7 linked regions of the Homo sapiens genome follow. The protein of the gene in region 5 purifies or fractionates together with the protein of the main gene of each other region. This does not show direct contact. Each region holds a gene or a part of one and is shown on either strand. Other genes may lie near its edges.

Evidence for each region.
Region 1: the proteins of NGEF (region 5) and DDX42 purify together in Homo sapiens (affinity purification with mass spectrometry, with the first as the bait; one large-scale study listed by BioGRID). This does not show direct contact.
Region 2: the proteins of NGEF (region 5) and LRPAP1 purify together in Homo sapiens (affinity purification with mass spectrometry, with the first as the bait; one large-scale study listed by BioGRID). This does not show direct contact.
Region 3: the proteins of NGEF (region 5) and TPX2 purify together in Homo sapiens (affinity purification with mass spectrometry, with the first as the bait; one large-scale study listed by BioGRID). This does not show direct contact.
Region 4: the proteins of NGEF (region 5) and CMAS purify together in Homo sapiens (affinity purification with mass spectrometry; one large-scale study listed by BioGRID and IntAct). This does not show direct contact.
Region 6: the proteins of NGEF (region 5) and ZNF326 purify together in Homo sapiens (affinity purification with mass spectrometry, with the first as the bait; one large-scale study listed by BioGRID). This does not show direct contact.
Region 7: the proteins of NGEF (region 5) and SFXN1 purify together in Homo sapiens (affinity purification with mass spectrometry, with the first as the bait; one large-scale study listed by BioGRID). This does not show direct contact.

Annotation. Positions count from the first base shown.
Region 1 is NC_000017.11:63,777,170-63,780,669, reverse strand, and holds part of DDX42 (ATP-dependent RNA helicase DDX42), read right to left. Parts: intron 1-3,500. UniProt on the Homo sapiens protein: ATP-dependent RNA helicase that binds to partially double-stranded RNAs (dsRNAs) in order to unwind RNA secondary structures. Unwinding is promoted in the presence of single-strand binding proteins.
Region 2 is NC_000004.12:3,503,112-3,505,767, reverse strand, and holds the end of LRPAP1 (alpha-2-macroglobulin receptor-associated protein precursor), read left to right. Parts: 3' UTR 1-2,156; downstream 2,157-2,656. UniProt on the Homo sapiens protein: Molecular chaperone for LDL receptor-related proteins that may regulate their ligand binding activity along the secretory pathway.
Region 3 is NC_000020.11:31,794,790-31,798,289, forward strand, and holds part of TPX2 (targeting protein for Xklp2), read left to right. Parts: intron 1-2,614; coding exon 2,615-2,726; intron 2,727-3,500. UniProt on the Homo sapiens protein: Spindle assembly factor required for normal assembly of mitotic spindles. Required for normal assembly of microtubules during apoptosis. Required for chromatin and/or kinetochore dependent microtubule nucleation.
Region 4 is NC_000012.12:22,052,718-22,056,217, reverse strand, and holds part of CMAS (N-acylneuraminate cytidylyltransferase), read right to left. Parts: intron 1,070-3,500; coding exon 927-1,069; intron 764-926; coding exon 608-763; intron 1-607. UniProt on the Homo sapiens protein: Catalyzes the activation of N-acetylneuraminic acid (NeuNAc) to cytidine 5'-monophosphate N-acetylneuraminic acid (CMP-NeuNAc), a substrate required for the addition of sialic acid.
Region 5 is NC_000002.12:232,894,757-232,898,256, forward strand, and holds part of NGEF (ephexin-1), read right to left. Parts: intron 161-3,500; coding exon 1-160. UniProt on the Homo sapiens protein: Acts as a guanine nucleotide exchange factor (GEF) which differentially activates the GTPases RHOA, RAC1 and CDC42. Plays a role in axon guidance regulating ephrin-induced growth cone collapse and dendritic spine morphogenesis.
Region 6 is NC_000001.11:90,008,610-90,012,109, reverse strand, and holds part of ZNF326 (DBIRD complex subunit ZNF326), read right to left. Parts: intron 2,023-3,500; coding exon 1,824-2,022; intron 1-1,823. UniProt on the Homo sapiens protein: Core component of the DBIRD complex, a multiprotein complex that acts at the interface between core mRNP particles and RNA polymerase II (RNAPII) and integrates transcript elongation with the regulation of alternative splicing: the DBIRD complex affects local transcript elongation rates and alternative splicing of a large set of exons embedded in (A + T)-rich DNA regions.
Region 7 is NC_000005.10:175,513,060-175,516,559, reverse strand, and holds part of SFXN1 (sideroflexin-1), read right to left. Parts: intron 3,098-3,500; coding exon 2,970-3,097; coding exon of another isoform or gene 2,965-2,969; exon of another isoform or gene 2,824-2,964; intron 1-2,823. UniProt on the Homo sapiens protein: Amino acid transporter importing serine, an essential substrate of the mitochondrial branch of the one-carbon pathway, into mitochondria.

The sequences.
Region 1 (3,500 bases), on a different chromosome or scaffold from region 5:
TCCCTAGCTCATCTAGAACACACAGCTCATTGTCCCTCAATTACTGACTCTAGGAAGGCCAAGGAACTGTGCTTTCTATATACCCTGAGTAGAATGTTAGCTCTATGAGGGCATAGACTTGACTCAATTTGTCCAGCACTATATCCTTGGTGTCTGCATAGTACTCAAAAAATTTTGCTGTATGAATAAATGTAATGTATTCAGGCTCTCCAAAATTCATCCCAGTATTTATGAAAACTCTATTTTATTACTACAAACCTTGTTATCTAGCTAACCACCCTTCCTGATTAAATCTAAGCCAGATCATCCTCAATGGATCATTACTTAAGTCTCTTGACAACAGTTTTTCCTACTTTTTTTTTTTTTTGTTTTTTTGAGACAGTTTCGCTCTTGTTGCCCAGGCTGGAGTGCAATGGCGCAATCTCAGCTCACCACAACCTCCGCCTCCCAGGTTGAAGTGATTCTCCTGCCTCAGCCTCCCAAGTAGCTGGAATTACAGGCATGTGCCACCACGCCTGGCTAATTTTGTATTTTTAGGAGAGATGGGGTTTCTCCATGTTGGTCAGGCTGGTCTCAAACTCCCGACCGCCGGTGATCTGCCTGCCTTGGCCTCCCAAAGTGCTGGGATTACAGGCGTGAGCCACCGTGCCCGGCAGTTTTTCCTACTATTAAACCATGTAGTGTATATGGTTACTGAACCTTGACAATCACAGAGATTTGTGGGAGTATAGCTGACAGAAGAAGCAAAAGATAGCCACCCAAATTTCTATTTGGTTACTAAAAAAATAAAAGAGGCAGATGCAGTGGCTTACGCCTATATTCCCAGTACTCTGGGAAGCAGGAGGATGGCTTGAGGCCAGGAGTTTGAGACCAGCCTGGGCAACACAGCGAGACCCCATCTCTACAAAGAAAACAAAAAGAAAAAAAAAAGAGATACCTAGAATAGTCAAACTCAGAGACACAGAGTAGAAGAGTGGTTGCCAGGGGCTGCGAGGAGGGGAGAATAGGGTGTTATTGTTTAATGGGTACAGAATTTCAGTTTTACAAGATGAAAAGTGTCCTGTGGCTAGATTGTGGTGATAGTACCAAAAGAAGAAAACAAAATGAGGTGGGCACAGTGGCTCACAACTGCAGTCCCAGCACTTTGGGAAGCCAAGGCAGGAGGATGGCTCGAGCTCAGGAGTTAGAGGTCAGCCTGGACAACAATGAAAGACCTGATTTCTACAAAAAATACAAAAATTACCCAGGTGTGGTGGTGTGCACCTGTAGCCCCAGCTACTCGGGAGGTTGAGGTGGGAGGATGGCCTGAACCCAGGAGTCGGAGGTTGCAGTGGGCCGAGATCATGCCAATGCACTCCAGCCTGGGTGACAGAGTGAGACTGCGTCTCAAAAAAACAAAACCAAAACAAACAAAAAAAACACACTTGGGGAAATTCAACTGCATTTTTGTATTTTTTCTCTTAAAAAAGATTTCTTCATTTCCTGCTGGGGTGCCAAAAAATAAAAATTTAAAAAAGAACCCTTTTGAAATACCTAATTTGAAAAGAATTAGCTGAATAGAGCCATAAACAAAGTTTAATGAGTATTTGTTTAAAAAAGAACAACCCTAAGTGGTTCTTAGTAATAACATCCATTGTTTTATACTGACCAATAACCACTGATGATTTTGTTATGTGCCCAGTACTATGAGGGACATCCCTCACGTATACCCGCCTTTCCATCTCCACCTCCACTATTGCAATTATTTCCTAAAAAAAAATTTCTGATTATTGGGAGGCCGAGGTGGACGGATCACAAGGTCAGGAGATCAAGACCATCCTGGCCAACATGGTGAAACCCCATCTCTACTAAAAATACAAAAATTAGCCAGGCGTGATGGCGCGCACCCATAGTTCCAGCTACTTAGGAGGCTGAGGCAGGAGAATCTCTTGAACCCAGGACACGGAGGCTGCAGTGAGCCGAGATCGTGCCACTGCACTCCAGCCTGGATAACAGAGCGAGATGCTGTCTTAAAAAAAAAAAAAACTTTATTATCAAGCTCTCACAGCACTACTAGAGTGATCACTAAGTCAAAATATACTGAGTGCCTATTTTGTGCCAGTAACTGCTCTAAGGTGCTAAGGATACAGTAATGGAATCAGATGCAGCCATACTCAGAGTTCACAGTCTGGCCCAGGAGAAAGAAAAACTAAATCATGTAATTCCAGGTAGCAAAAGTGCTATGAAAAGCAAGCAAGAGGGTAAGAGGCAAGCTATTGCAGACTTAAGTCAGGCAAGGCCTCTCTGAGATGAATGACATTTGACAGGTAATCCTCCCCTGACTACTGTCCCAAGAATGTCTGTTTTATTGGAAAAGTAATGTGGATGTACATCCAGATGCTTCATCTAAAACCAGCAAATCTTCCATAGTCTATGAGAAGTGATTCTGTTTAGTAAAGCATAAAATGATGAAGTAATAGTGAGACACACAGTGAAAAGAGAAAAGCAAGTTTTACCTCCTTTGGTAGAGTAGCATAGTGTGTGTTAATACCGTGGAACCAGAAAAAGTCTCACAGAAGGGAGGTCAGTATTCAGATGCTTATCGAAAACCCTTTCCAGGTTCTTCCAGAACACACATTTCTGATTATGTCACTCTCCTCAATTCCATAGCTCTCCACAGTTAATCATGCTGGAATGAGACCCTCCATTGTGGCATCAAACTACTTTACCATTCATATTTCCCAGGGTCTCTCCACACGTACTCAGTTTTCCAGGAAAACAAGCACTCTAGTGAATCCTCTTCCCTCTAACTGGATCCCCTTCACATCAAATCTCTTTCCTATAAACTGTGAGTACCTACCAAAGTCCTATCCTTCAAAGCATATCTCAAATACCAACTCCTAAAGACATGAATATGATATCCCCAAAGAAATGGCATCTCCTGGCTGGGCACGGTGGCTCACGCCTGTAATCTCAGCACTTTGGGAGGCCGAGACGGGTGGATCACGAAGTCAGGAGATCGAGACAATCCTGGCTAACATGCTGAAACCCCATCTCTATTAAAGATACAAAAAAATTAGCCAGGCGTGGTGGTGGGCACCTGTAGTCCCAGCTACTCCGGAGGCTGAGGCAGGAGAATCACTTGAACCCGGGAGACGGAGCTTGCAGTGAGCCAAGATCGCGCCACTGCACTCCAGCCTGGGCGACAGAGTGAGACTCCGTCTCAAAAAAAAAAAAAAAGAAAGAAAAAGAAATGGCATCTCCTTCCTCAAACTCCCTTTCCAGTCCAACTCCGTATTATAGGATTCATGGCTGAAGAAACAGGCTTATTCACTTTTCTCTTATAGCATGTTTTCAATATTAGATACTCATTTATTCAATATGTAAAAGACTAAAGGAGATCTACAACTAGGCTGAAGAGAAACAGTCAAGATGGCATCAAGTCCTATTTGGTATGGTTCTAGGCACTAAATCCTATGGCTGGCTGGGCAAGGTGGCTCACACCTGTAATCCTCGCCCTT
Region 2 (2,656 bases), on a different chromosome or scaffold from region 5:
GGTGGTGGTATAGACGGTCTTGGGGTAGCTGGTATAGACGGTCTTGGCGTAGCTGGTATAGACGGTCTTGGGGTAGCTGGTATAGACGGTCTTGGGGTAGCTGGTATAGACGGTCTTGGGGTAGCTGGTATAGACGGGCTTGGGGTAGCTGGTAGTGGTGCTCAGGAGGCGTGTGGGCTGCTGGTGCAGCTGGAAGCGCACCTCAGCCATGGTGTTGTGCCAGGTGTGGTTGGGGATGCAGGGGACGTTCCGGCCGCAGGAGGCCCCTGCCAGGCACAGGCAGCTGCGCGGTGTGGAAGAAGTGCCGCTCGGAGTCATGCTTGACAAGGAAGTACACCTTACTCCTCTCAGTGGTGAGGGGTCAAACCACTCCTTCCCAGCGATGGGGCCAGCAGCCTGGCGAGGGCTAGGCACCGGGGAGGGATGCTGGATTTGGAGCTGGGGGGAAGGGGTCACCCTGCATTGGGCTCCAGTGCTCCGGGTGCCATGCCTGCTCCCCCACCACTGCCACCGCAGCCGCTGCGGGACACCAGGGGCTGGGGCTGAAGAGCAGCCTCGAGCTGGGCTGTCCAGGACACGGTCGCCCTTCTTCCTCGTGTCCGTGAGCTCAGGCACAACCTGCAGCTTAGCCAGCCCACTATGGCTGCGTGCGTGGCAGGACCCGGGCCACCATGGCTGCGTGCATGGTAGGGCACATGATTATTTTAGCCTCTGGTATCACTAACCATCCCTAAAGTCTCCAATGGTCTGTTCCTGTCTTTCCCTCTGGTTCACTTGTGGGGTCATGTTGTCTTCTGTTCTTTGTTATTTATTTTTTTCTTGAGACGGAGTCTTGCTCTGTCGCCCAGGCTGGAGTGCGTTGGTGCGATCTCGGCTCACTGCAACCTCTGCCTCCCAGGTTCATGCGATTCCCCTGCCTCAGCCTCCCAAGTAGCTGGGATTATGGGCACCTGCCACCATACCCAGCTAATTTTTCTGTGTGTGTGTGTGTTTTGTTTTTTGGTTTTTTTTTTTTTTTTTTTGAGATGGAATCTCAATTGCTCAGGCTGCAGTGCAATGGCGCAATCTTGGCTCACTGCAACCTCCACCTCCTGGGTTCAAGAAATTCTCCTGCCTCAGCCTCGCAAGTAGCTGGGATTACAGGCCCCTACCACCACAGTGGGCTAATGTTTGTATTTTTAGTAGAGACAGGGTTTCACCATGTTGGCCAGGCTGGTCTCGAACTCCTGACCTCAGGCAATCCGCCCACCTCGGCCTCCCAAAGTGCTGGGATTGTAGGCATGAGCCACCATGCCTGGCCTAATTTTTCTGTTTTTAGTAGAGACAGGACTTCACCATGTTGGCCAGGCTGGTCTCAAATTCCTGACCTCAAGTGATGTGCCCACCTCGGCTGCCCAAAGTGCTGGGATTACAGGCATGAGCTTCTGTGCCCGGCCTGAACTGTTAAGTGTTTGTGAAGAATTATTTGGGGGCCTATTTGAGAGCTGTTATATGGATCATCCTCCTGGAGAGGGTTCTTAAGCCTCTGAGACCGGGTTTGGGGCTGAGGCTTTCTGACCCACACAAGTCATGCTGACCCCTGAAGGGCCGCAGGCCAGATCTTGCCAGGTGAGCACTTTCCCCGCTCACATTCAGGATAGGGCGAGGGGGTTGGTACCGATTCACCCTCAGGGCCTAGATTTGGGGGCTTCAGCTTGCTGCAGATAGGTGCTCCCTTCACTCTCACCTGAGGCTGGGCTGGAGCCTGGTGTCTGCCCCACCCTGCTGGTCAGCCCCCTAGGACCTGAGCCCCGTAAGCCTGGACTGGCCACGCCCTGGGGCAGCAGCACTGGGTGCTTGGCGCTCACGACCTTCCTGGGCCCCTGGGTCCCTCACTTCTCCCTTGTTTCTACCTTCCTGGCTTGTCAGATTCCCACAGCTCTTAAGGAGAAATTCAGTATTTACTGCAGCATGTGTTTTCAGTGTGATGGTTCATCTAGGTACCCTAGCCTGTCATTGCTGGAGTTGGAAATCTCTGTTGTCTGCTGTTGTTTTGTGAAACAAGCGCGTGAGGTTATAAGTTTCCCTCAACGTACCACACTAACCACATTTCCCTAAGTTTTGATGTGTAGTGTTTTCACTGCCATTCAGTTCAAAATATTTTCTCATTTCAAGTATGATGTCTTCTTTGATCCATGTGTATTTTTAAGTTGCTAAGTGTACTTACTTTGGCCGGGCATGGTGGCTTACGCATGTAATCCCAACACTTTAGGAAACTGCGGGGGGGAAGGATCACTTGAACGCAGGAGGCTGAGGCTGCACGTCACAGGGAGAGACGGGCCGCGGTGATGTACGAGCTTCCTGTTGATAGGCAGTTAAGTTGGTTCGGGATAACGTGGCCTGCCTGGCACGGGTATTCCCAGAGTCACAGATGCTCACCCGTGCCAGCGTTGGCTGCTTGGGACATGGGGACGGCGAGGTCCCCACACCCCACATGTGAGCTGCTGGTAGCTGGGCTGAGCCCAGGTCCCATCCGTGTGTGGGGCGTGAGTGTGCGGTGCCATCGGGTCTGCACGGGCCTCGCCTCGTCCCGGACGCTCCAGGCTTCCTGTGGCACGGGTGCCGAGAGGGACCAGCCTGGGCCTGCTGAACCGAGGGGGTGGTCTAGGGCAGAGGC
Region 3 (3,500 bases), on a different chromosome or scaffold from region 5:
GTATGTGTGTGTGTACGCACACATTTTGTTGTTGTTGTTGTTGTTTTTTGAGACAGAGCCTTGCTGTGTTGCCCAGGCTGGAGTGCAGTGGCACAATCTCGGCTCACTGCAAGCTCCGCCTCCTGGGTTCACGCCAGTCTCCTGCCTCAGCCTCCTGAGTAGCTGGGACTACAGACGCCCACCACCAAGCCTGGCTAATTTTTTTATATTTTTAGTAGGGATGGGGTTTCACCGTGTTAGCCAGGATGGTCTCAATTTCCTGACCTCGTGATCTGTCCGCCTCGGCTTCCCGAAGTGCTGGGATTACAGGTGTGAGCCACCACACCCAGCTACATGTTTTCAACTCTTTTTTTGTTTGGTTTGAGACAGAGTGTCGCTCTGTCACCCAGGCTGGAGTGCAGTAGTGCGATCTCGGCTCACTGCAACCTCCGTCTCCCAGGTTCAAGTGATTCTCCCACCTCAGCCTCCCGAGTAGCTGGGATTACAGGCGCGTGCCACCACGCCCAGCTAATTTTTGTGTTTTTAGTAGAGACAAGGTTTTGCCATGTTGGCCAGGCTGGTCTCAAACTCCTGATCTCAAGTGATCTGCCCACCGTGGCCTCCCAAAGTGCTGGGATTACAAGCATGAGCTGCTGTGCCCAATCAACTCTTTAAAAATGTAAAAACCATTCTTAGCTCAAGCGCTGTCCTAAAACAGGTTGCAAGCTGGATTTGGCCTGTAGGCCAGAGTTTGCTGACCCCTGCTCTAAGTGATCACCTGGGAATGTCCCCTGCTCCAAGTGATCACCCGGGGAATGTGGGAACCGACAGGCTTTTCTGGAGTTGGGAGTTTCTTTAAGATCTTATCTATTCCATCTATTAGACTCATTCATTGTGTTTATTCCTTTCTGTTGATGCATTGGTAAGAAACAGTATGGGAGAATAGATTGAAATATACAATGCTGTTTTCTCAGCATGATGTGCTATTTGCTCTTTATAAATGACAGGTGATTTAAAACAATTAATTGGTTATTTGCTGATTTAATTGGGATCTAATTCTACGTGGCTGGAAAAAATTTCCCCTGAATTTCTAAGTTTTTTGGATTTTTATGTCATCATTAATCTTGGATTCTTTCCAAAAGGAGCTCTAGGCTATTGTTTGTTTGTAGGAATTACCCCTCCTGAAGCCCGAGAGTTGTAATGGCTTACATGACTGAACGTTGGTCCCCTGTTAGTGTGGTTCTCTAAGAAACCTTAGGACTGTTGCCTTGGAAATAGTGAATTTTCCCCTCTCAATGACCAAGACACAGAATGTCTGTGTAGGGCATTTTCTGCAAAGAACAACAACAAAAACAATTGTTTTAAAAAGCTTTTCAGAAATATAAAAGTAGGGTGAATAGTATAATGAATTTTCATGAACCCATCACCTGGTTCTATAGTGATCAAAACATGAAAAGTCTTGTTTCATCCCAACTTCTACCCACTTATCTTACACTGGATACTTCTACCTGTGTAAGATTACTTTGAAACAAATTCTATGTAACATCCCTTTTCATCCAAAAATACTTCAGTGTATATATTTAAAATATAAAGACTTATAACCACAATAATATTCTCACACTTAAAAAGATTAAAAATAATCAAATATCTGCACATTTCTCATAATTTTTTAAACAGTTGAATTGTTAAAATCAATATCCATATATAGTCTACATAGTGCCTTTGTTTGCTAAATCTCCGAATCTTCTTTCAATCTATAGGCTCCTCTCTTTGCATTTTATTTGTTGAATAAACTGGATTGTTTGTACTGTAGATTTTCCACAATCTGGATTTTGCTGATTGCGTTCCCACACAGTTGTCTAACATGTTCCTCTGTTGCTTGTATTTCCTATAAATGAGTAGTAAGATCTGGAGGCTTGATTCAATTCTGGTTAGATTTTTTTTTTTTTTTGGAGGTGGGAAGAATACTTTATAGGTGATACTGTATAGTTCCTAATGAATCATGTGTGAAGGCAGAAAATGTCTAGTTGTTTATTTTTATGATATAAAGATAGGTCTTAAAAGTACCTTTAAAATTTTTTGTTTTTTTTAATTGACAAATAATAGTTGTACATATTCTTGGGGTACATAGTGATGTTTCAATATGTATAATGTGTAATGATCTGATCAGGGTAATTAGCATATCCATAATCTCAAACATTTATCATTTCTTTGTGTTTGGAATCTTTTTTTTTTTAATTTAAAAGTAAACTTTAGCACACCAACATGGCACATGTATACATATGTAACAAACCTGCACATTGTGCACATGTACCCTAAAACTTAAAGTATAATAATAAGAAAAATAAATGTGAACATAAACTAAAAAGAAAAAAAAAAGTAAACTTTAATGTCGAAAATGCAAACTTGGGAATCTTAAAAGTATCTTAAAAATGCTTTCTAGTTCTCAGTGAGTTCAAATGTTGTCAGACTGATCTGTTCATTGTAAAGTTTGTGTGAAAGATTTTTACTAGGGTTTATATTAAATCTGCTATTTTTATTGATGAAGCAGTTCAGACATTAGAACTTAAGTTATTGAGGTAGTGGTCATAGAAAGGTGAGACATTGCTCATCTGACTGACTTTCTCTCTAATAGCTGGAAGAAGAACTGAGACAGCAGAAAGAAGCAGCTTGTTTCAAGGCTCGTCCAAACACCGTCATCTCTCAGGAGCCCTTTGTTCCCAAGAAAGAGAAGAAATCAGTTGCTGGTAGTATTATATGTACTCTGATGGGACTCGGGCAGAATTGTCAGACTTCCCAGTGGGATGCTGGAATTCAGTGTGTCAGTACAATGCTGTGTCAACTAGAAGCATTTGACTTTAGCAGATGGTAGCTTTTCTTCCCCTAGACCCAGTTTTTTGCCTTTATTGAACCCAGCAGCTATGTTGAGTTGCAGGATGTGTTAGGGCCAGATTCATTTAACATGAACCTTGGCAGAAGCAGCTGGCATTTCAACAACAATGATAGGTTTTCCCCATCCACAGAGAAACAAGTAAATGAGGGAGGGAGAGCCAGTATGGCTTTCTGGAATTCACCCTGAAGCAAACTTTAGATATAAAACATTTGATTCCTTAAACACTGGGCAGTGTGCTAGAATACTGGGATTCCACCGGGTGTGGTGGCTCATGCCTGTAGTCCCAGCACTTTGGGAGGCCCGGACAGGAGGATCACTTGAGCCCAGGGATTTGAGACCAGCATGGGCAACATAGCAAGACCCCATCTCTTTTTCAAAAAAATCTTTCCAAAAAGGGAAAAAAAGAATATTGGGATCTTTCTTCTATGTCTGCCTCAAAATCAATCACTATATAGTTTTGTGCAAGCTACTTTATGTCTTTGCCTTTTTCCCAATTACACCAGACGATTTCCAGGGGCCCTTTGAACTCTTAAAATTCTAAAACTTTTTGTATTTAGTTGGCTCTACCTTTCTCCCAATGGGGCTTGTTTAGAGCACAGTCTTCCTGTTAGTGTGCATGTCTGTGCCA
Region 4 (3,500 bases), on a different chromosome or scaffold from region 5:
ATGACCTTTTTTTAAAATGGATAAAAAAATGGAAAATTTCAACAGAAAATGGAATCCCTACGAAACAACTAAAATGTACATTACTGAATGGAAAAACACAGTGTTTATAATAATTCTCTGGATAAGATTTATAGCACACTGGACATGGCAGGCAAAATGCCTAGTAAACCCTAGGGAACCCTTCTTATATATGGAGTTAGGAATTTGGGGAAGAACTTCAAAATGTCATTCTTGAAATCCTTCAGAACACTTTGGTGGATGCTTTCTATCTCTATATGACTTGTATGGAGTTCATCAAACATGTCTAGAACAAACATAAAAGTATTTGATCTAGAAAAACAGCATATCTGCCTCAAAAGGCAAACAGAAATAAGAGGATTAGAATGTCCCTTTGTAAAGAGTAAAGCAAAGAATTAATTTGGTCTAGCTGTGTTGGCTCGATAACAGATTTACAGCTGATTGTAAATGTCATTACCTACTAAAGTAATGAGTCAAATACTCTCTTTTACAGCTCCCCTTTTACTCTCCTCATGCCTAAAGGATATTTATATACAAAAAAATTGATTCTCAATAAAATCAGCTAAAATAAAGACTGAAAAGAGATTACCTCCTTTCTGAATTTCACTCCATCGAAACTGATGGCGTCTCACAACAGAGAAAACAGAATCATATCCTTCTTCTCGAATCATTTCTGCAACTTTTTGAAGATCAGTAGGATGTAAACATGGAGAAGTAGCTTGAATATTTCCTACAATGTCAACCTCTTAAAAAGACAAGAGAAATGAAAAGGATATTTAAAAAAAAAGTTCCTTGCAAGCAAGTAATATTAAGGTTTGGAATTCAAATGTTAAAACAAGTCTTATAAGATAATAAAGGAAGTAGAAAAGTACATAAAGGTTTGAATAAACTATTAATCAAATTCATACCATTATGATAATTAAGAAATTCTATGATGGCATCTAGTGAGGTAGAGCTGTCTTTTGAAACTTCAGAACTTCTTCGATGAACTTGTGCACCAAATTGTTTGGCCACATTCTCAATTTCATCATGGTCTGTCGAAACCCATACACTGTTCAGATATCAAAAGAAATTAACAGCCAAATCAAAAGAAATCATTAACAATAAAATGGAGCTCTGTAACCATAAAATACAGCTTATATAATGTGAGAATATTTTTTGCACAATGATAATAATGTTACAGATCCAAAGGAGTATAAAATGTAAGAAATTATAAAGTATTTTGTATATAAATATATTAATGAATAAAAATGCAGTCCTAGATATGCTTTATATAAAGAAAGGAACAACAGACACTGGGGCCTACTTGAGGGTAGAGGGTGGGAGGAGGGTGAGGATCAAAAAACTACCTATCAGGTACTATGCTTACTACCTGAATGACGAAATAATCTGTACACCGAACCCCTGCAACATGCAACTTACCTCTGTAACAAGCCTGATGTACCCCTGAACCTAAAATAAACGTTTTTAAAAAGGCACTAGAAGTCAAATCTAAAGAAAATTAAAGATCTTGCTTATTCTCCATCCAAATCCAAAATATTGTATAAAATATTTTAATATGCTTGCTAAAAAAAAAAAAATGGACTTGGCTTAGCCAAACCCTAAAGGTGAAACAGTTTCAAGCTTAGAAGATAATAAATGCCCAAGTCTGGGCTCAAAAAAAATCAGATGAAACAACTCTTTCTTTTTTAAACAACAAACAATGGGTATATAGATGTAGAATCAGCTGGGTTATAGCCATTGATAACAACAAACATGAAGAACATGACTTCATTAGCTCAAAAGAATTTAACTTAATACTCTATTAACCGCAGGTTACACAGTTGCCTATTTAGCCTTTACAAAATGATGAGTAGGCAAAATGCTGTTTTGGAGAGGGGTACCAGTTTCTATTGAAGTTTTGTTTCCTGGACAGTCACAAATTCCCACTGCTAAATGCAGAAGATGTAAATACTACTCTAGCCACAATGTTTGGTCAGGCCTGGAGTCTCACACCTGTAATCCCAACACTTTGGGAAGCCGAGGCGGGTGGATCACCTGAGGTCACGAGATGGAGACCAGCCTGGCCAACACGGTGAAACCCGGACTCTACTAAACATACAAAAATTAGCTGGGCATGGTGATGCACACCTGTAATCCCAGCTACTAGGGAGGCTGAGACAGGAGGATCGCTTGAACCTGGGAGGCAGAGGTTGCAGTGAGCCGAGATCGCGCCACTGCACTCCAGCCTGAGAGACACAGCGAGACCCTGTCTCAAAAAAAAAGACAAAAAACAACAACAAAACCCTGCCATGTTTTTTTGTTTTGTTTTGTTTTGTTTTGAGACGGAGTCTCGCTGTGTCTCCCAGGTTGGAGTGCAGTGGCGCGATCTCGGCTCACTGCAAGCTCCGCCTCCCAGGTTCATGCCATTCTCCTGCCTCAGCCTCCCAAGTAGCTGGGACTACAGGCGCCCGCCAACACGCCCGGCTAATTTTTTGTATTTTTAGTAGAAACGGGGTTTCACCGTGTTAGCCAAGATGGTCTCGATCTCCTGACCTCGTGATCCGCCCGTCTCGGCCTCCCAAAGTGCTAGGATTACAGGCGTGAGCCACCGTGCCCGGCCCCCACCATGTTTTAATAGTGATTTATGCAAAGATATCTTAATGACTTATAGTCTTTGGTGTATGTGTGTGTATATATATATATATATTTGGTGTGTATATATATATATACACACACAAACATATATACACATTATTTTATATACATACAAAATTATATATAACGTGTATATATAATGTGTATATATAATGTGTATATGTGTGTGTGTATATGTATACATATACACACACACATATATATTTTTCCTTTTATCCCACTCTTTCGATATCTACTGAGGGAAAGATGAACTGCATGTTTTGTTTGTTTTTTTGACAGAGTCTTGCTCTGTCACCCAGGCTGGAGTACAGTGGCCCATTATCTGCTCACTGCAACCTCCACCTCCCAGGTTCAAGCGATTCTCATGCCTTAGGCTCCTGAGTAGCTGGGATTAGATTACAGGCATGTGTCACCACGCCCGACCAATTTTTAGTAAAGATGGGGTTTTGCCATGTTGGCCAGGATGGTCTCAAACTCCTGACCTCAAGTGACCCTCCCACCTCAGCCTCCCAAAATGCTAGGATTACAGGTGTAAGCCACCACGCTCGGCTGAACTGCATGTTTGTCTATGCTCAATTATCATGAGTGGAAAGAAAGTGAAAAACTAAAGAAAATCTTCTAACATCCCTGGATTTCATTTATTTATTTCGTTTATTCCCTTTAATATTTATAGAGGGATTTAAATCAAGGGATAAAGTCAGTAAGAAAAAATAATCAAAGAAAGCCTAGCAAACAAGATGAGCCACTGGCTAGGGGTCAAGAATCCCGTGATATCTACTTATGTCACTCTATGCAGGGCGAACGCAGGAGCCCCCATTTTCCTCCATCTTGAAATCTGAAATAGT
Region 5 (3,500 bases):
GCTCACTGACAGCCAGCACGTCCAGGACGTTGGAGAAGAGGATGTGCGCCTCGGACGGGTGCAGGATCTTCCTTATCCGCTCGTTCTCCATGAAGTGGGACACGAGCAGGTTCAGACTCTTGTAGTAGGACGCCTCGGAAGTGACCAGCTCGAACATGGCCTGTAGCAGGGAGACCCCATGGTTACCGCCTGAAGTTGGCCTTCCACGAAGGCGCTAGCCTTGGCTGAGACAGAGGAGCAGAGGGAGGCTCAGCAGGGAGTTGAAAGGGAAAAATCGCCTGCTCCTGGGGCCTGGGATGGCTGCTGCAGGGGCAGCTGGTAACACCTGCGGCCGGGAATGGTAGTGAGGCCACTCTTCCTAGGGAGCACACTACCCCTAAGGTGACAGGGCACGGAGGCTACTCCCTGTGAGAGAACACTTACCATACTGACAACTGGAGATAGCCTAAGATCCAAAATATGAAACAAGACAAAAACGAGAGAGGTCAGGCTGGGCGTGGTGACTCACTCTTGTAATCCCAGCACTTTAGGAGGCCGAGGCGGGCAGATCACTTGAGGTCAGGAGTTCAAGACCACCCTGGCCAACATGGTAAAACCCTGTCTCTACTAAAAATACAAAACTTAGCTGGGTGTGGTAGCACATGCCTGTAATCCTAGCTGCTTGGGAGGCTGAGGCATGAGAATCACTTGAACCTGGGAGGCAGAGGTTGCAGTGAGCCCAGATCACGCCACTGCACTCCAGCCTGGGTGACAGAGTGAGACTCTGTCTTAAAAAAAAAAAAAAAAGGTCAGCCACACACCTGAGCCCGCACAGCTGCCAAGGGTGGCTTGGCCCATGCTCTGGGTGTGCTAGTGGGTGCGAAAGTCAGCAGGTGGGAGGAATCCTGTTCCTCCACGCCCAGCAGAAAAGCGTCAGGGGAAACCGGCCAGTGTCAAGCACGAGTGTCACGGGTGGAATCTGGGGGGATGTTTACCTTTTTACCTTTTGAATCGCCTGATAATTTAACAATGAACATATATCATGGTCTGATTTTATAATGGAACCAATAAGGTGATTTTCATTTTGGAAGAGAGAAAGAAATCCATAACCTGATCAATTTTCTGGAGGTGCCTTTATTCGATGTCATGATTATCACCTGATTGCTGAGCCTCTGAATAGCTGACTAGGATCTAACAGCAGTTCTGCATCTCATGGGTCATTCTGTAAGGGCAGGTGGCAGATCCCGGCTCACCTTCCTCCCTTGTTTACAAATCAACCCAATGACCCACCTTCCTCTTCCCCGTCACCCTCTGATACTTAGGGCGGGTTCAGGTCCCACAGTCGCTTCCCAGGAGGGACAGCAGAGTGGGTTGAACTGTGGCCCCCACAGAAGCTACATCCATGTCCTAACCCCAGCACCTGTGAATGGGACCTTATTTGGGAAAAGGGTCTGTGCAGACATAATTGAGTCAAGGAGCTCAAGATGAGATCATCCTGGGTTAAGGTTGGCCCCAAACCAATAATGGGTGTCTTTATAAAAGAGGCCAAGGGAGATTTAATAATGTGACACAGACACACAGAGAAGGCACAGACAGAGATGGGACTGATACAGCCACCAGCAGTTGGAGTTGGCCAGAAGGATCCTCTGCAGAGCTGTCAGAGGGAGCACAGCCTGCCCAGGCTGTGGGAGAATCAATCCTGTGATCCTCTGCCACCCAGTTTCTGGTAATTTGTTATGGCCACAGAGGAGGGGTGGAAACAGAGCAGTGAGGAGCCTGGGGTAAGGGTGAGGGTGGGGGTGAGGGTAGGGGTGAGGGTGGGGTAGGGGTGAGGGTGAAGGTAGGGGTGAGGGTGAGGGTAGGGGTGTGAGGGTAAGGTTGGGGTTGAGGGTAGGAGTGGGGGTGAGGGTAGGGGTTGGGGTGGGGGTAGGGGTGGGGGTGGGGGTAGGGATGGGGGTGGGGGTAGGGGTGGGGGTAGGGGTGAGTGCAAAAGTAGGGGTGAGGGTGAAGGTAGGGGTGAGGGTGAGGTTAGGGGCGTGGGTGAAGGTAGGGGTGAGGGTGAAGGTAGGGGTGAGGGTAGGGGTAAGGGTGAGGGTAGGGTTGAGGGTGGGGGTGAGGGTGACGGTGGGTATAGGGGTGAGGGTGTGGGTAGGTGTGAGGGTGGGGGTAAGGGTAAAGGTAGGGATGAGGTGAGGGTAGGGGTGAGGGTGAGGGTACAGGTGAGGATGGGGGTAGTGGTGGGGTTAAGGGTGAGGTAGGGGTGCGGGTGAGGGTAGGGGCGAGTGTGGGGGTAGGAGTGGGGGTGAGGTTAGGGGTAAGGGTGGGAGTAGGGGTGGGGTGAGGGGTGAGGGTTGGGATGGGGTGGGGGAAGGGGTGAGGGTAGGGATGGGGTAGGGGGTGGAGGTGGGGGTCTGGCCCCTTCCCCAGGGTCCTGCCCATCCCCTGCCTCACTCCTTTTAGGGCCGCCCTCCGGTTTCTCCACTCATCAGAGCCCTGACCCAGGGCCCAGGGCTTTGGCATGAAAGCAGGAGCTCCAGGGTTAGAGGCATTTGTTCCCAGAACACAGTGGGCCCTGGAGTGGTGGGGTTTTGCAGGCTGTTTCACTTAATCCTCCCAGGTCCCCCAGAAAGGACAGACAGAAGCTCCCATTTTACCAAAAGGAAACAGACACAGAGAAGTGAAGTTGCATCCAGAAAGTCACATGGCTGGATGCTGGAGGAGTGGAGATGCTGCCACCTCCCAGGTAGCGCAGGGGTTTGCTGGGCATTTGATGCCCGCCTGCAGGAGCTCTCACTGCTGCTTCCCTGCAAAGCTCTGCCCACCCACCCACCTGGCAGAGCACTCTAAAATAAGGGACGAATCTGGAAGCTGGGAACACCCCACAGAGAGTTCACATTGATGTCACTCCAGGGCCAGCGGCCAACTGCAGACCCCGAACCACCATCAGTAGCCAGGGCCCACCCGGCCCCCAGTGTCTGCACCTCACTTGAGACAGTGACAGTCAGAGATGAGACGCTGAAATGAGCCTGTGGCCTCTCCGTGGCCATCCCCACGTCGCATCTGCCTCATCTACCTAAAAAGCAGCCACAGCAAGCACACAGCAGCACCTCACTTGAGACAGCGACGGTCAGAGACGAGACGCTGAAATGAGCCTGTGGCCTCTCCGTGGCCATCCCCACGTCGCATCTGCCTCATCTACCTAAAAAGCAGCCACAGCAAGCACACAGCAGCGGGCCTCACAGCAGCAGACCTGCAGCCCAGCGCTGACTGGCAGCAGACCCCGAGTCGGCCAGTGTCCACCGACACAAAAGTGAGGCTATGACGGGCAGCCAGTTTCCCAGAAGCTTCTCAGCTACAGATGCTGTTATGAATTCATTTTCCTGCTGCTAAATTTAAGTTTCCTAAGAAAATGTGAAGCAGTTACAGCTCACAAGTTCCAAGCAAACATAACTCACAAAACTGATACGAATGATACCAAGGGGAAAACCCCCATGCCCACAGCGCCACATCACAGAAAAGCA
Region 6 (3,500 bases), on a different chromosome or scaffold from region 5:
GTAATCTTAGCACTTTGGAAGGCTGAGGCGGATGGATCACTTGAGGCCAGGGGTTCAAGACAGCCTGGCCAACATGGCGAAACCATCTCTACTCAAGATACAACAATTAGCTGGGCGTGGTGGTGCACATCTGTAGTCCCAGCTACTCAGGAGGCTGAGGAACGAGAATCGCTTGAACCCAGGGGCAGAGGTTGCAGTGAGCCAAGACTGCACCACTGCACTCCAGCCTGGGCAACAGAGTAAGATCCTGTCTCAAAAATAAAAATAAATAAATAAATAAATTTTTGTTGGAATACTACTTTAAATTCTTTGGAATAGAAGAATACCTAGAAGTGGAATTGCTGGATCATATGGACAGTCTATGTTTAATTGTTTCAGGAAGCACCAATCTGCTTCCCACAGTGGCTTCACTGCTTTACATTCCCATCAGTAATGTGTGAGGGTTTCAATTTCTCCATATCCTTGTCAACATTTGTTATTTTCCTTTTTTTATTATGACCATCCAAGTGGGTATGGAGTGGTAACTCACTGTGAGCAGGTTCTTTCTTATAATACATTTAACTTTATACTTAAAAAAAAAAAAAAAAAAAAAACTTAACTATTTGCCCTTAAATTTTTCCTTTTATGCACTGCTTATCCTTTTGGATGGCCTTTGAAAAATCTACTTATTTATATATTACCTCAAATAAGTAATTTAATCTTCCTTTCATATGCTAAAACTATGACATGTTGTACTTCTAGCCAAGTGACAGAATAGGGTTCCTTTCCTACTAATTTTCTATAAAGTCACATAGTCTATACTATAGCATAGCAAGACCTTGTATTGAGGAAAATTCAGCAATCATCTTTTTAAATGCCCATTTTACACCTGACAGAGAAGGCATAATTTAAAGAATTTTAGTTTCATTCTTAGCTACACAACACTTTTCTCAAGTTTTGTTATATAAAAAGGGGGTATGGGGGAGGGATACATATATATCTGCTTTAAGGGCAAATCAGTTTCTTTATCAAACTTTTGCAATATTTAACCATACGTGCAAAATATATCTTTGAAATAGGTCCCAAGAGAATCAACTGAATTTTCTATTATAGTAATGTCTAATAAAATGTCAAATTTGATACATAACAGTCTATCAATTGACACACTGTTAAAGGTATCCCCACAACACATACTCTGCTTAGTATCAGGTTTCCAGAACTCCAGAAATTCCAGAATATTGTTTCTTATTAAACAATAAGGCCTGATGAGAAAGTAATTTAAGTACACCTTTTAAACCTTTTTCAAATTTTATATTATAGAAAATATATTTTGAGGAAAGAATCTAACATTGCAATTTCAGTTTTTTCAAATATTACATATTAAAATGTCTATAATGTCATAATTAGGGAAAAAGTTATTTTAAAATAAAAGGGAAAAATGAATACAAAGCAAATTTCTGTTACAATCATATGGAGGTTTAAGAACAGGACTTCTAGAGCATGACTTGCTCTGGAATAAATACTGGCATTACCATTCACTGGTTGTTTGACTTAGGCAGCAAATTATTTATCTATTCTGTGCCTGTTTTCTCAGCTGTAGAGGGTTTGATACACAACCACAAGGATTCAGGAAAAAGGAATGGACCAGGTTATGTACATTTTAAAAGTATCTTTGGGTATTCATGACCAATTATTAACTGCAATAGGGGATTTACAGATCTAACTTCTACAATCATAATTGTTATGTAGTTTCTGTATATAAACATGAAAAAATTACCAAAAAGTATGGAATTTTAAAAAATAAAAAGTATCCTGAATCATAGCAATTATGTTTTCTTACTTACTGGGTGATTTGCTGAGGCTTATCTTCTCCATAGGTTTTGCTAGTTTGGGTTTCTTGATAAAGGTTCCACTGGGCTTATTAAATGGCTGCATCATTTTTCTCTTTATTCCTCTTGCAGCAGCAACTGTCACATTGGTGGATTTGTTTTGATAGTCAACAACAATTCCGGGTCTATGAATGCTTCCAAAATCACCCATATGCTGTAAATTTGTGAAATCAATAAATATTAGCATATTGTCCAAGAAAAAATATGAATTCATATAAAATTTTCATGTTAACTATCTACTAATTTTCACCTGAAAATTCCCTGGAATGTAACTAAATTTTACATGTCCATTCTGAAAAAACACATTGAAAAACTCTGTAAATTATTACATAAACTCAAATCCATTGAATTAGTATTTTTATTTCCAGTAGAACAAATAATGAATATTTGCTAACTATGTTTTTACTTTTACATTTCAAAATTACTTGAGATTATAGACAACATATGTGCCTGTCCAAATGTTACCACTTGTACAACTCTCTGACAACTCCTCTTCAGAGTTCCTAATTGATGTTTTCCCATGAAAAGACCCTAAAAGAAATCTTTATTTTACTAAAACTAAGATACACAAAGAAGACCATATTTGTAGTTTGAAGTAAAAAAGATCCAGAAATCATTTAGTATTCTCCCTGTTGAAAAAGGGAATGAGAAGGCGAGATGGAACATTAGTATGAAATAGGAGAGTTAAAGCATAACCATGCATCAACTTCCAAGACACACTTCAGATAAAGAATTGCATCTGACGTTCCATTCACATTCTTACCTAGAGAAACATTTTCTGACCCAGAAGCCCAAGAAACAAAAGTTTACAGATGAAGAGTCATGCAACCAAACGACTCTTTGTGTCCCTTCCTCTTCTCTTGTCATTATCCAAATCTACTACACCAAGAGGCCACATGTCCACAGAAATTTATTCTGCTAATCTTACTTTTAGAAGATAAAGATGGAGGAGTAATCTGAAGAGAAGGACCCAAGGGGAATTGTACAAGTGAAGATTTAAAATGTAGGTCCTATTGGCTCATCTACTTCACTAACAGGAGGAAAGAAAGAAAAGTCCATTCAGACTAGAATGGTAAATACAAAGTACAGGAATACTTGTTTATTATGAAAACGAAATTTACTTTTGAAGCCTCATTAAGAAAACACACTTTGTCTAAAATAATATACAGCATGGAAAATATTAAGTGTTTTCCAAATTTTCAAACTAGAATGGATTTTCAATTCAAAACCCAAAGCCTATCATCCCAACTATTTTCAATTAACCTATGATCATGAAGTATAGTGGAACTGTAATGTATCAGTTGCTTACATTTGTATACTATGCTCAGGAATGCCTATCTAACCTAGTTGTGTTTCCAGGTAATTTAAAAAGTCACAACAGGAAAATCTTCCTTAATTACGCATTAAAGGTGCAATGCATTTTTACATAAGTAAAGAGTAACTGTTAAAAATGCAAAATTTCTACACAAGTATAACAAGCTACACTGACATATCAAAAGCTAATAACCAGTCAAAAACGTGTACCCTACTACCTTTTTTACTAGAAATACTTTCCTCTGCAAATAAAATATTAAGAGCAGCTGACTTAAAAGGATTCTTACATTATAACAAAAATACAATACTCTTTAAATG
Region 7 (3,500 bases), on a different chromosome or scaffold from region 5:
ACTTTTTTTTTCAACCATTTGACAGAAAGCTTCTGTCACTTTTAGGCTATTTCCACTGTCACAGTAAAAACAGTTTGTAGCAATTCTTTAAATTATTACATTTGAATTCATTAGATTGAAAACTGTTCTGATTTTCTAAATTTTTGAACAGTAATATCACATCCTCTGCCAGCCAGAAAGTTTTATAATCTTGAAAAGAACTTTACTTTTAGGTTTAAGTAGACAAAAATAAAAATATCAGGAACTTTTTCTTCCTATATTAATAAAACAAAGGGCACAAGGCAGGGAGGATGGTGTAAAGAATCCTGCCTTGGAGTCAGGCAGAAACTGCTTCCGTACAGGCTAGACCAGGGGCCCCAACCCCTGGGCCATGGACTGGTATGGATCTCTGGCCTGTTAGGAATAGGGCTGCCCAGCAGGAGGAGGGCAGTGGGCAAGTGAATGAAGCTTTAGCTGTATTTACAGCTGCTCCCCATTGCTTGCATTACGCCTGAGCTCTGCCTCCTGTCAGGTCAGCGACCGCATTACATTCTCACAGGAGCCTGAACTCCATTGAGAACTGCACATACAAGGGATCTAGGTTGCCCGCTCCTTATGAGAATCTAGTGCCTGATGATCTGTCACTGTCTCCCATCACCCCCAGACGGGACTGTCTAGCTGCAGGAAAACAAGCTCAGGGCTCCCACTGATTCAACATGATGGTGACTTGTCTAATTATTTCATTATATGTTACAATGTAATAATAATAGAACTAAAGTACACAATACATTTAACGTGCTTGAATCATCCTGAAACCATCCCCCTGACCCCTGGTCCATGAAAAAATTGTCTTCCATGAAATGGGTCCCTGGTGCTAAAAAGGTTTGGGACCGCTGGGCTAGACCACTTGCTAGCTGGGTGACCCTGGAGAAGTTACCTAACTTCTCTGAGCCTCAGCTTTCTGTTTTCTTTTTCTATAAAATGGAGGAAATTGGAGACAATACTGCATGTAAAACACTGGGTATGCGGTGGACAGCATTCGTTCATTTGCTGACAACTTTTATCAGGCTAAACTGTCATATCCACTATTTCAATATGTCAATTACTCTTATAAATTGCACTAGGACAGAAAGATTGTATTTCTTCTCTGGGGACTAAATAGTGTTTAAAATAACCAAATCACTAGAAATGGATTTGTCCGTCTGGACTGGCTGAACTCTAAGAGGAGTAAGGCAATTCAAAACAGAAAAGACCACAATCAAAAGCAAACCCAGGGCCGGACATGGTGGTTCACAACTGTATACCTAGCATTCGGGGTGGGTGGATCATTTGAGCCCAGGAGTTCTAGACTAATTGGGCAACATACCAAAACCCTGTTTCTACAAAATATACAAAAATCAGCTGGGTGTGGTGGCGCACGCCTGTAGTCCCAGCTACTGGGGAAGCTGAGGTAGGAGGATCACCTGAGCTCAGGGAAGTTGAGGCTGCAGTGAGCCATGATCACAGCAACTGCACTCCAGCCTGAGGGACAGGGCAATATCCTGTCTCAAAAACAACGACGACAACAACAAACCAAACCCAGGGCAGAAGCTGGAGCCGCAACCTCGATTTCAGCAAATCTGGAAATCAGGGCTCAGTAGGAACACCGGGGTGGGCTCCATAGCCTCCTTTTAGGTTAGTGACAAACGTGCTGGTCCCTGGACTCAGGAGATGCTTTCCCATGTTTCAGGACTGTGGCTGTGCAGCCACCCCTACAGAACACATTAGCCTCAGGCAGGGCACCAAGGCACTCCTGTGTTAAACCAGATAATAGCAGTTTTCCCCCAATTTGCTGGAATGTGAATATCATATTCCTCAAAGTTTTCCTTCATGCACTTTTCAACTTTTGTTGCCTGCTCTTCCTTGCCTGCTGATGAGCAGTCACAGTGACAAAAGGAATTTAAAAACCGCAAAACAGTATCAATGGATGACTTGACAGCAGCTGATGAAGTATACTTCATTGGAGAGCTTCATTTTAATTGCCAAGCGCTGTTTGCATTCAGTTTAGATGATGAAAATTAAACATACTAATTTCTGTTTTTTTTCTGTGAAGAGCACTCTAACTGCCAGGCCCTCTGATTTCTCAGTCTGAGAACTTTCTTTAGGCCCCTGGTCTGAAGGTAGCTCTAAGCAGCCTTAGGGTGGACTAGAGATTCTCAGCAGAACTAAATACAATGTAGACTTTCTATTTTTGGTCATTCTGACCCCAGTCCCTATAGGGAAACCTGAGCAGTTGCTTGGCACACATTTTATCAGTAGCTGCTCTAACCATTCCAATTTGCTCCATCAGTTCCTTCTGGTCAAATTCCCACTGTATGGCCCTGGTCCAGCCCATCACTGCCTCTTGCCTGGATTACTGAGGCAGCCTCCCCGCACAGCCTCCACTGAATATTCTCATTCTCCTTCAGCCTATTCTCAACCCACCACCCAGAGTCACACAGATAAAACCTAAGTCAGACTGTGCTGCTCCTGTATGCAAAACCCTGCCTGGCTTCTTACCTCTCAGACTAAAACCCAGGTGTGAAACGCCAGGGCTGCCATCCACGCTCTGCCGTCTGTGGCCTCCTGACTCCCTTCCTACTGCTCCCCACCCCTCCCACTGTGCCCCAGCTGCACCTGCACCCGTAATGCCTGTAACACACCAGGCAAACTCCTGCCTGTGGTTCCCTCTGCCAGAATATTCATCACCGATACCCACTTGGCTCACTCCCACACCTCCACCCAGTGCTCTTCCCCGGCTGCCCTACCCACACGCCCTAGCCCCATTGCCCCCTTGCCCTCATCACCACTGCACATACTACATACTTTATTTACTTGTTTATTTTCTGCCACCCCCAGTGGAAGGCAATTTCCACTAAGAGGTGTGATATATGTGTTTGTTTTCTGGTTCACGGATCCGTGAACGCTGGTTCAACCTGTATTTATGGAATAAATGACAAAGTCCTGCTAACCCATGCCAGGGGCTGCCATGAGAATCCTGGACACGACAACTTGCGTGATGGCTTGTTTCGCAGCGTTCGCCGACTCCCCCAAGCGGTTCCCATTCTCATCCGTGACGGGAATGCCAACTTTGAGTTCCCTGCAGAGCAAAACACATACAGAGAGCTCCACCAATGCCTTCAATAAACGTCCTGAAATAGTACTATGTTGGGAAAGATCAACCCTCTACTTAATTCAAATACCCACTCAAGTGTCATTTTTGGTACTGACACATCTGTTTTTTTTTTTTTTTTTTTTTTTTTTTTACAGTCTCACTCTGTTGCCCAGGCTGGAGTGTAGTGGTGGCTATCTCCACTGACTGCAACCTCTGCCTCCCGGGTTCAAAGCGATTCTCCTGCCTCAGCCTCCCGAGTAGCTAGAATTACAGGCATGTGACAGTGTGCCGGCCAATTTTTGTATTTTTAGTAGAGACGGGGTTTTGCCATGTTGGCCAGGCTGGTCTTGAACTCCTGACCTCAGGTGATCCACTCGCCTCGGCCTCC